2 separate regions of the Homo sapiens genome follow, and region 2 is linked to region 1. The links come from fine-mapping of genetic effects on gene expression. A gene starts in region 1. The other region holds a variant in brackets. All regions are shown on one strand. Distances are from middle to middle.

Region 1 (5,501 bases):
TTTTCAATACACAATGTTAGGGTTTCCCAATTAACATTTCCTTGGAGATGAACCCAATTAATTGTTCAGCCCCCAACAGCAATAAATGCAGTCTTCTAAACGCAATGAATCAGGTGACCTCTCACACCTGGGTACATCCCAACTTAGTAGCATTAACAAGAAAAATGGACTTAAGAAAAACATTAAAAATATGACTCAAACATTTACTTTTAGGGCAGAAAAAGAGGGATGGAAACTTATACTACTTTCCAAAAAGTAAAGTAATGGCCTCTTATAGAAATTAAAACTGCAAACAGGCTAGTATTCCCAGGCCATTTTACAGAAACATTTAAGACCATCCCAAACTAAAAGAAATGCTTGCCTTGCTGAAATGGGAAATGGTTCTGTCTTCACCAGCCTATGAAAACCAACGTCCCAAGTCTGCATATCTCACAGTATCTCTTCCAAGTTCCAGATTTGTTTATCTGAGATAGCCAGCTTCTCCAAACAAACTGAAAACTAGAGGCAAAGATACCTAAATCAAACATTTAAATATATCCTTCAAGATATAACACAGTGCTGTGGCAGGCAACTCGATGAACAGCATGAATTAAATGTTGGAAAAAAGTATCATTGCAAGGTTAGGCATCTTTACCCTTGTCTCACGGATAAATCCCTTTAAAGTTCTGTTGGCCTGTGGGTTCATGTGCTCACTTTTCAGTACACAAAGTAAGTTCTTCAGATCCCAAGTTTTCTAAAACCGAATACAAGCCGCCTCCGCCAAATACTTTTGAAAAATGTTTAATAATCTTTGTTTTCTTTATTAAGGGCCCAGCTTTACTGGAGTATGGTGCTCCCTCAGCCAAGGGCATATCGTTTCCAACTCCCGAATGGGTAACTAAGCAGGCTGATTTCTCATCTTCTGGAAAAGACGACAACTACATCTGGGAAGATGAGCCTCACACTCTGCACTTACATGCACTTCCTTGACCATATAAATTCTGGCCCACCACAAAGAGGGCCAAACATGAGGCTTGTCATTCTTATATCCCAATCTAGTTCCCAAAGTCTTTACTGCAGTGGTTCCTGGGGTGGGGGCAGTGGTTTCCGGACCAGCAGCATCAGTATCTCTTGGGAACTTGTTACCAATGCACATTCTCTGGCCCCAGCCCAGGACCTACTGAACCAGCACCTCTGGGAACTGAGGCCCAGCTCCCCAGGTAAATGATGCCCTCAAGTTTGAGAACTAGTGTTGCACTGCAGTCGCTGTCAAACCTTGTTGTACCCTCAGAGCCTGCAGGTGGCGCTAAAGGCCAGAAGGAAGAATTGCAGGAGCTGGTAGCTCAAGTTTTTAACTGTTAAGAGTTCCTGCCCCCCTGACCACACAGCTCTTTCTAGCAGTTCCAACAGCTGCTCAGCCTCCCCCAATGCCTTAAAAGGTCACAGTAGATCTCAGCTCTGAACAGAAACTCAACTGAAACTCTTCCCACAACCCAGCAGTAGATATATTAAAACCTACAATTTTCAGGGATACAATCAATATTTAATTCTTTTGAGGGTTTTGTGTTTAATACAAGGACACAAACACACGTATAAAATGACGATGTCAATACTGATTAAACAGAACAACAAAATAAGAAGCTCAAATTATCATCAGCTATTGTGTATATCTGAAATAACAATAATGCACTTGATTCTGAAAGAATGATTAGAGTTCCTACTCTGAAAATCTAATTGTCTTGATGTGACGAAGTGAGAAGAAAGGATGATTTTTCTAATGAAAAGCATGTATACGGGTAGCCCTTTGCGAGATTCTGTCAAAACCCTGAATTTTGCATTAGCTGTTTTACCACCCAAACGTTTTTACCGAGGATGTGCAGCAATGGGAACTCTCATACACTGCTTGTGGGAATATAAATCAGTATAACCACTTTGGAAAACCATTTAACATTGTCAACTACAGCTCTACACACAAGTACTAGAACCAGCCATTCCACTCCAGGGTATACACCCTAGAGATATGAGTGCCCATGTCTACCAAAAGCCGCCTAAAGGAATGCTCTGAGAAGTGTAACTTGTAATAGTTGCAAACTGGAAACAACCCAAATGTCCATCCACAGTAGAGATACATAGTATGGATACTCATACAATTAAACAGAAGCAGCAATGAAAAAACTAACCAACCAACCAAACAACTGCTACAACATGAATGAATTTCACAACAAGGATGAATCTTTCAGAGTGAAAGAAGCCAGACACAAAGGGTACACTCTTATTCAAACAGGCAAAACTAATCTCTGGTGACAGAGGTCAGCATAGAGGTTCCTGGGGCTATCTAGGAACAGGCATGAGGCGTTATTGGAAACAGTCTACATCTTGAACTGGGGGATGGTTACTAGGGTGGTGTATACGTATGAAAAGTTCAGTGAGTTGCATACTTAAAATCCGTACACTTTATGTATGTTTTATTTTTAGAGGCAAAAAATATTATTGACAGCCTGTCATGTAAACATTTTCAATAACCATCATAAAACTCTAAATTCCTGGGAAAGAATATTGTTATCAGAGTATATTTACTGCCACAAACACTGCATTTGCTGAGCTAAAGTCAAAACTTAATACAGGGAACAGGAGATGTTCCTTTTTTCCAATGTTACATATATAAAAAGACCAAACCTTTCTGGCTTGCACTCCCTAGGCCAAATTCCTTTAACTGTGTCATTTAATCGGTCCTTCCTTGTGTGGCACTGGCTGTCCACTGTCCCAAGCCCTCGCATGTCCTGGATGGCCGGTCATCATCCACACGGGGGCTGAAAGGCCCGGCTCCAGCACTCCTGTGGTCATCATCCTGCTGAATCGCTTTGAACTACCCTTGGCCTAACCGCGACTCCCATCCCGCTTCCCTCCTGCCTCGCCACTGCAGGCCTGTCCCTTTGCTTTCTTAAAACTGCGCACCGTCTGAGGCCACTTCGAGCCTACTGGATCCCTGGTTCCAACCCAGTAGGATCACAGAAGCAGGGCCAGCTGCCAGGTAGGGGACACCAAGGGCAGAAACCTCCGGGGCCCGCAGCGCACCGGTGACCGCGAACCCGCGTGGCTCCCCTCAGGCTGAGTCGGCTTCCACCCTCCCACCCGAGCCACCGGGGATCAGGGCCCGGGAAACACGCTCGGTCCTTTTCGGCGCTTCCGGGTTTGAAAACCGCGGCTTGCTATGACGTGTGACCAAAATGCGGGGCCAGCTGTCCCAGAGAGAATCCCATCCCGCGCCGGGCCGGGTAGTGGGAGCCACCGGGGTGGGGGGCGGCGCGCCCGGGGTCGCGGGCCGCTCCGCCAGTTCTTGGGCCGACCCCGCCGCCCGGGCGCGCGTGTTTACCTGAAACCAGGAACACGTGCTGCCGGGCGCCAACCCCGTCCCCGCAGTCCACGCCAGCGGCCATGCCGCCCGCCTCTTCCGGGGCGCCGCAGGCTCAGCGCCGCGGGCCTCAGTCTCCCAGCCCCGCCGAAAATGGCGGGAGAAGGGTCTGTTCCGGGTGGCGCGGCGCGCTGAGGGACCGGCAGCGCCCGGGAGGAGGCCCAGGGACCGAATTTCGTTTCGTTTCCGAGACCAGCCTGCTGCTCGTGTTACGTTTTTAAATTTAGCGCCAGGCGAGGGGCTCTGAATGCCGGCCGGTGGCCGCAGGCAACGGGAAGGGGCCGCGGCCTCTCCCTCGCGGCTCCGCTAGTGGTAGGTGCTCATCGCGCGCCGCAGGGCGCCGAGTGACGCGGAGCGGGGCGGGGTCGCCGGGGCCCCGCGCTCTGTGGCTGCACCCAGCGGCCCTCCATGGTCTAGCCAGCGGGCTAGGATTGGGTCTGCGGGGTGTGTGCCCGGACAACGGGTGACGCCCGCCACACCCCCGGGGCCGGGGGACTCACCTGGAGCTAGTCCGTGTTAAGGACAATAGCAGTCACATCGGAATCCGAATGCAACTCTTAGCCATGGTCCTCAATTATTTGTGAATATATATTGGTCATCAGTTGCATTCTGTGTTGCTATTGATGTGAGAATATGTGTGCATTGTGAGCTACAAGGGATGTCCTCAATTTGGACTCCGTCCTCATCACTAAAAGAGGTGCACAGTTTTGGGCTCAGAATATGAATTTGTTGTTTTGGAGAACGCTGTATACTGAGTTAAAAACTTAGACATTTATTTAAAAAGTGATGTTTAAAAAGTTAGAGCCATGAAATTTGGGGATTTAAACTTTTAAAAATAACATTTTAATTGAAAAGTGTTGTTTGGTACATGGTTTTTAAGAAGAAAGTACATATTCCTTTCATACTTTAGAGAAAAGCACGGGCCAGGCGCAGTGGCTCAGGCCTGTAATCCCAGCACTTTGGGAGGCCGAGGCGGGCGGATCGCCTGAGGTCAGGAGCTGGAGACCAGCCTGACCAACAAGGTGAAACTCCGTCTCTACTGAAAATACAAAAATTAGCTGGGTGTGGTGGTGCACATCTGTAATCCCAGCTACTACGGAGGCTGAGGCACAAGAATCACTTGAACCCAGGAGATGGAGGTTGCAGTGAACCGAGATCCCACCACTGCACTCTGGCCTGGGCTACAGAGCTGGACTCTGTCAAAAAAAACAAAAACAAAAAAATCCACAAAAACCTATTTTTTTTTTTTTTAAAGAAAAGCATGATGTATCTCTTTTATCCCAGATCCCAGGGGTAACTGTTAACATTTCTTCTCTATTCTTGCAGAATTTTTCCATGCAAAAACAAGTTAATGTCTTATTTTTGCACAATTGAAAGAATAATATACATAACTCATGCACTTTGCTTTTCATGTTTAATCTTGAAGATAGTTAAATTTAGCAGCACTAAATTTATCTCGGCCCTCTGAAAAGGTTTTTAACTTCAAACCTGTTTCCCATGGGGTGAGACCAATACAGCTGCAGTTGATTGCAGGACACAGCTGGTGGAGAAGAGGCCTTTCTGGCTGAGGAAAGGCGCCTCTTGCCAGTTTTGGGGCAAGGAGCAGCAGATTGGTACTGCTCTGATCTTCCCTCTCCCCCAAAACGACTGTAGAAGATGCTGTGGTGTATAGCACAAATCCCCAGGCACACCATCGTCTTACTAACAGCTACAGGAGCACCCCATTATTCCTGTAGGATGGGATCCAAAACCCCCAGTGAAGGCCTAAAACCGCAAATAGTACCAAACCCTAATATACTGTTTTTTCCTTTGCATGTATATCTGTGATAAAGTTTAATTTGAAAATTAGGCCCAGTAAGAGATGAACAACAATAATAATAAAATAGAACAATTCTCACAGTATGCCAGCATCACTACTCTTGCAGCTACTAAGTGACTCATAAGGAGGGGACCTTCTGCAGTGTGGATCCGCTGGACAAAGGTAGAATTCAGGTCCTTTGCAGGACGAAGCTGGATGGTGCAAGATTTCTTCACACCACTCAGAACACTGTACAATTTAAAACTTACGAATTGTTTCTGGAATTTTTCGTGTAATATTTTTGGACCAAGT
Region 2 (5,266 bases), 21 kb after region 1:
TGTGCACAGCAGTGAAGATGCTAGGAGATTACAGGCAGATATTTTGCAAATAATCTCTTCTAAAGTTATTGATTCATATAAGTGGAATATAAGATTTACGTTAATCCTATTCCTTAAATCAGAAATGTCTAATGTTATACTGTTTTATGCAGTGGGTAATTTACATTAAGAAAAAGGATTTTAAAAAAAACTAATAGGAAAGCTTGTGGATCATCCCACCCCACCCCACTTTTTTTCTGGTCACCCCTGGCTGGTCACCTCAACCTTCTGCTTTCTTATGCTGCCATTTGCACCAAGCATGACATTATATCAGCTCTCTCTTTCTCTTTGTTCAGAACAAAATCCTTTTTATAGCAAAGTGGAGAAAATTCTCGATGCCATGAATGCTGAATGAGACTTAAATACAAAGGCCCTGCAATCACATTTCACCCCATAATTAATTATGTAATTATAAAGCTTTGTCAAGCCATTGTATTCCCCCTCAAATATATTTTAAAGAATTTTAAAGCTTTTGTTTCTACACCCCTGACAATAATGATAAAACACCCTTACCTCTCCCATTTCCACGTGTCTATCACCTTTTTAATAATACTCTTGAGAAAAACATGAGATCACTGGTATTAAAGTAGAAAGGTCTTGCAGCTTTTTTTCTAGTTACTTAGATTTGTGGAGCTCTAATTTGATTGTGGGCATCCTTTATAAGGCTTGTTCCACCTTCTCCTGTGGAGCTATACCAGCTGTGACTCCTGTTTTAAGAGCTATGTTCTCTTCTCTGTTGCAGACCTATGTTATATCTGCCTTAGTGCATGGGCTGCTGGTCAATGCTAACAGCTGGCTCTCAGGGAAAAAAGAAAAACCATCTGTGGCATCTGCCAATTTCTGTGGTGTAAATACTCTGAGCTCTGCCAATTTCAAGCCATCCATCTGACATTGCTGAACCCAAAGTTGGCAAGGGATGTGCACAATTGCCTTTTGCAAGCAAGTAAGAGCTGTCTTGGGGATTATTAAGCTACTCAAGAAGCATCTGCCTACTGGCACCCACTGCTTTTTTAATGTACTCTGGGAGGAGAGGGCATATAAAATAGTGTTCTTGGCTTAAGGGGTTTACAGTCTAGCCAGAGAGAAAGAGCCCAAAGCAATGACCAGAGAAAGCAGAGTGCAACAGTGATCCACAAACTCCACTGAAGGGATTCAGAGCAAAGCCCTCAAGAAAGGCACTTTAGCAAAGAAAGTGTGTTTAAAGGATGCAGAGGGTTTCATGACATGGAGGAAAAGGGAAAACGCATTCCAGGCAAGGGAAGGCTGGAAGGTTGGAATAGGCATGGAGTGTTCTTAGAAAAGACAAAACAGAATCTCAGACTGTCTGATGACCCAAACGGGAAATTTTTGGTACTATGACAGAATATTCACTTCCCTCTTTACCAGGTACTTTTACACACGTTTCTTTTGATCCTTCCTATAACTGTAGGAGATTGGTAAAATACAATAGGTGTTATTATTACTATTATTATATTCACTTAGCAAAAAAGTATACTTAGAAAAGTCAGAAAACTAAGGGAAGTTAAGGGCCCTTGTGGACCCCTTTAAGCCAGACCCAGAATGCTCTCTCCCCAGCTTATCGTACCCCAGTGTTATTGCACCGCAGTCTGCTCTGAGGACCCTCATTAGGCAGTCCTCCCATACAGTAGCCTCTCAAACTGCAAGACTTTTCATTGCATGAGCAAGATCCATTTTTCCTTGCAACGAAACTGAAGAACTGCCTCAATGGCTTTACAAAGAAAAGCAAAGTCTATTTCTTTTTTAATGTCTGTCCTGAAAAGGACTTTGGGGGCATGGTGCAGTGGAAAAGTCACTGAGCTGGGTATCAGAAGAGCTAGATTCAGGTTTGGGATCTGATTCAGGTTTGGGATGTGATGGAGAGCTGTGTGATATTAGGCAGATGGCTTAACACTTCTGGGTTTCCGTATGTCATACAGGAACTGATGAGTTTACTTGCATGGCCTCAAATGTTCCTTTTATCTATGAAAGGCAGCACTTCTAGATATACTAAATTGCCAGTCTAGAACTATATCATTACATGGGCCTCCAGAGAATCCGGGGAGCCTAGAGGAGTTGAGTGTGTTGAAGGTTGAAGCACAATTACCTTAAAAAATAATGTAATTGAAGTTCTTGGATATTACTTCCTGAAGATGGCCAAGATGGCTTTTTTTTTTTTTTTTTTTTTTGCCTGGGCTAGAATGCAGTGACATGAACACGGCTCACTGCAGCCTCAACCTCCCAGGCTCAAGCAATCTTTCCACCTCACCCTCCTGAGTAGCTAGGACTATAGGCATGTGCCACCACACCCAGCTAATTTTTTCTTTAAATTTTTTTGTAGAGAGAGGGTCTCCCTATGTTGCCCAGGCTCAAGATGGCCTTCT[A/G]ATGGAGCCAATATCTATCTATTCATTCAACATATTGCAAATAAACTTTGGAAATAAACCAGTTATATGAAATAAAGAAGTAAATAAATTATTAAATAAATGGCCTTACTTTATTCTGTCTCCTCTGCAGGCTTCTGCAAAAGACTTGAGACAGCTCACAATGAAGTACTCTGTATTAGGCAGGGTAATATTGATTGCAAGTGACAGAAACCCAATCAGAAACTCACTGGAGTCATGAGGAACACTTATTGGCTCAGGTAACCTAACCCTTGAATGGGCAGGGATGTATCTGGTTTGGGAGGAAATAGTACCAGGTGCTGAAAGTAGCTGTCTCAGACTCTGGTCTGTCTTTCTGTGTCACATTCTTTCACACCTTGGAGGTTGTGGTCATCTGGCTTATCACTGGTCAAGAAGATGCCTCCTTCATTAGTTCCTTGATTTCAATTTGAAATAATGCTGGTCAAAGACTCTGGCCTTCAGCAAAGACCATGGCAATGGTCTGAGAGTGGCAGAAGGCAGAGGTTGACTGCATTACTAAAACGACAAGGTTGGAGTTGGGACAGGTGGGGAGAAGGGTTTATCTAAAAGAAGGTGCTGCTGCTATCAGAAGAGGGAGTGTTTGGGCTGGGGGGACAAAATAAAATATGTCCACAACAGATACATCAATAGAATCATTAAATAAAGCTGGATGGGATGGAAATGAGCAGGGTTCGTTGTGTAAGAGAACCTAAATTAATTATGGTAGCTTCAGTTTAGCTCTCACGTATGTGAAAGTCAAGGTAACATAGAGAAACAGATCATTTATAAACAAAAGGAAGCAATCATTTTCCTATGTGTAAACTCTACTATGATACTTAAATAGGTTTACAGGAGTCATTCAGTGGACAACATCTTCCATAGTGATTTTCAAAAAAGATGCAAACAATTTTTATTCTGTCATATCTTATATCAAAAATTATATTTAGAGCATATTACCTCATATTTCTTTTAGGTCTTCATGGTGTATTTAGGATGATAAATAAGGTGTATCTGGGGAGATAAATCCAGGTATATAGCTTTCAGATGATCAAACCTATTAGCATAACATCCAATTAATGGACTATTAATGATACCATATTTTTATCAATGTGTAAAGGTTATGTTTGCTCCCATTTTGAACTTTTTGTTCAGTGTAGATGACTGGAATGATCATGTTATGTGACGCTGTGTTGAAGAGAGTCACTGAGAAAGAGGTAATGTCAAGTAACAGGGAAAGTAAGAAATGACTGGAACACACTGGGACTTTGCCATAAACATAAGAGACAGGCAGTCAGAACAGTAAAGAATTGTACTCAAGTTGTTTGAGTACAAACTGTTTGACACTGTGACACTGTGATAGGGAAACCAAATAGTGTATTCATTGGCAATGTCTTTTATGGATACCAGGAGATATTGTTAGTCAGCTGTAGTGCAATTATTGTTGATTGGTATATTCTTAATTCACTGAATCCTTTGAATTGTGCTACTCCAAGTTCTAGTAAATACTAGAAAGTATTTACTACTCAAGTATTCTAGTAAACACTAGAAAGCATCCAGCATATTCCAAAAGACCGAGAGTCGTTGACTTAGTAGACAATGAAAATTGTTACCTTAATTGAACTAACTTCAAACTGTATGTGCTGTATCTCTGGGGGCAGAGGAGAGAAGAGTGACTCCATCACAGTCAGGTAGTTCCAAATGTATCTGTTGTGCATATTTGACTTGTCCATAATTGCCTTTTAAAAGAAATTGTCTTTAACCCAAAACAAAACACCTTGAAAATCAGTCTTAGACTGTTGCTTTTAATTTTCTAATATCTCTTAGTATTCCTAGACTTTCAAAATTGTTCTATTAAGGAAATTCTCAAACATCCAAAAGTAGAAAGACAGTATAATGAACCCCATTGACACAATATTCAAATTCAACAATTTTTAACATTTTTCTTGGTTTTTAAAAAATATTTCACATAACTGATCCAAAGGAATTTTTTTACACATAATGTCGCCATAGAATGTTAGACTCTTTTTATTAAAAAAAAAAAACTGATTATAAATATTTGCACATTTATAAGAGGAGTTTTCAGGAATTTGACAGGGCACACCTAGAACCACCGGGGTGGTGCTCAGGACCCACCAGGTACACCAAGGACCCACCAAGCACAGGTCCAGCCCCAGTTGTCCATCTTGCTTTATCTATTATTCACCTTTTTTGATGTCATATTGTTTTATCCATAATTAAGTCAGTAGTATATAAATCGAACAGATGAGCATTTTTAAAAACCACAAACCCACCATTCCATTATCATACCTGACAAAATTAACATTAATTCTATTATTTCACCTATTACGCAGTCCGTGTTCAAATGTCCCCAATTTTCTCAAATATATTTTACAGTCCTGTTGAAATCACAGAGTAAAGTCCACAAATTGCATTTGGTTGAAATGTCTCTTAGGTATTTTCTAATCTATGAAAGTTCCCACTTCCCCATTTTTAGCCGTTTTTTTGTTTGTTGAAGACATTGGTTCATTTGTCCTGTAGAACTTCCGGCATGCCAGATTTTGCTGATCGCATTCTCATTCAACCCATTAATCTAATAACTTGTTCCTTTGTATTTTTCATGAGCTTGCTGCCTGAGTGTGAAGCTTGCTTAGATTCAGATGCATTTATTTTGGCAAATACTCCATAGGTACTATCGCGTGTTTCCGATTGCATTCCATCAGGCGGCACATGAGGTCTCGTGGTCCCATTTTTAGTACTGTTAACACTGATCAAGGGTTAAGTGTTGTCATCTAATCTACCCTTTCACTAGTGTTTTCCTGAGCCTCTGA

Evidence for each region.
Region 2: its variant is fine-mapped to the expression of RNASEH2B-AS1 in whole blood (TOPMed, PIP above 0.99).

What each region holds. Positions count from the first base shown.
Region 1 is chr13:50,907,992-50,913,492 of GRCh38, reverse strand. RNASEH2B-AS1 (RNASEH2B antisense RNA 1) reads left to right here and starts at 2,781. Exons shown (of 3, transcript NR_046552.1): 1 at 2,781-3,010. It overlaps RNASEH2B (ribonuclease H2 subunit B), which reads right to left and starts at 3,702. Exons shown (of 11, transcript NM_024570.4): 1 at 3,353-3,702. The coding sequence starts at 3,416. RefSeq lists silencers at 2,948-2,997, 3,208-3,447, 3,458-3,887.
Region 2 is chr13:50,887,020-50,892,285 of GRCh38, reverse strand. RNASEH2B-AS1 (RNASEH2B antisense RNA 1) reads left to right here. Exons shown (of 3, transcript NR_046552.1): 2 at 2,551-2,677. Among named protein-coding and RNA genes, the nearest start is that of RNASEH2B, 20 kb to the left of the region's middle. The variant A/G (reference allele first, on the strand shown) is at 2,421.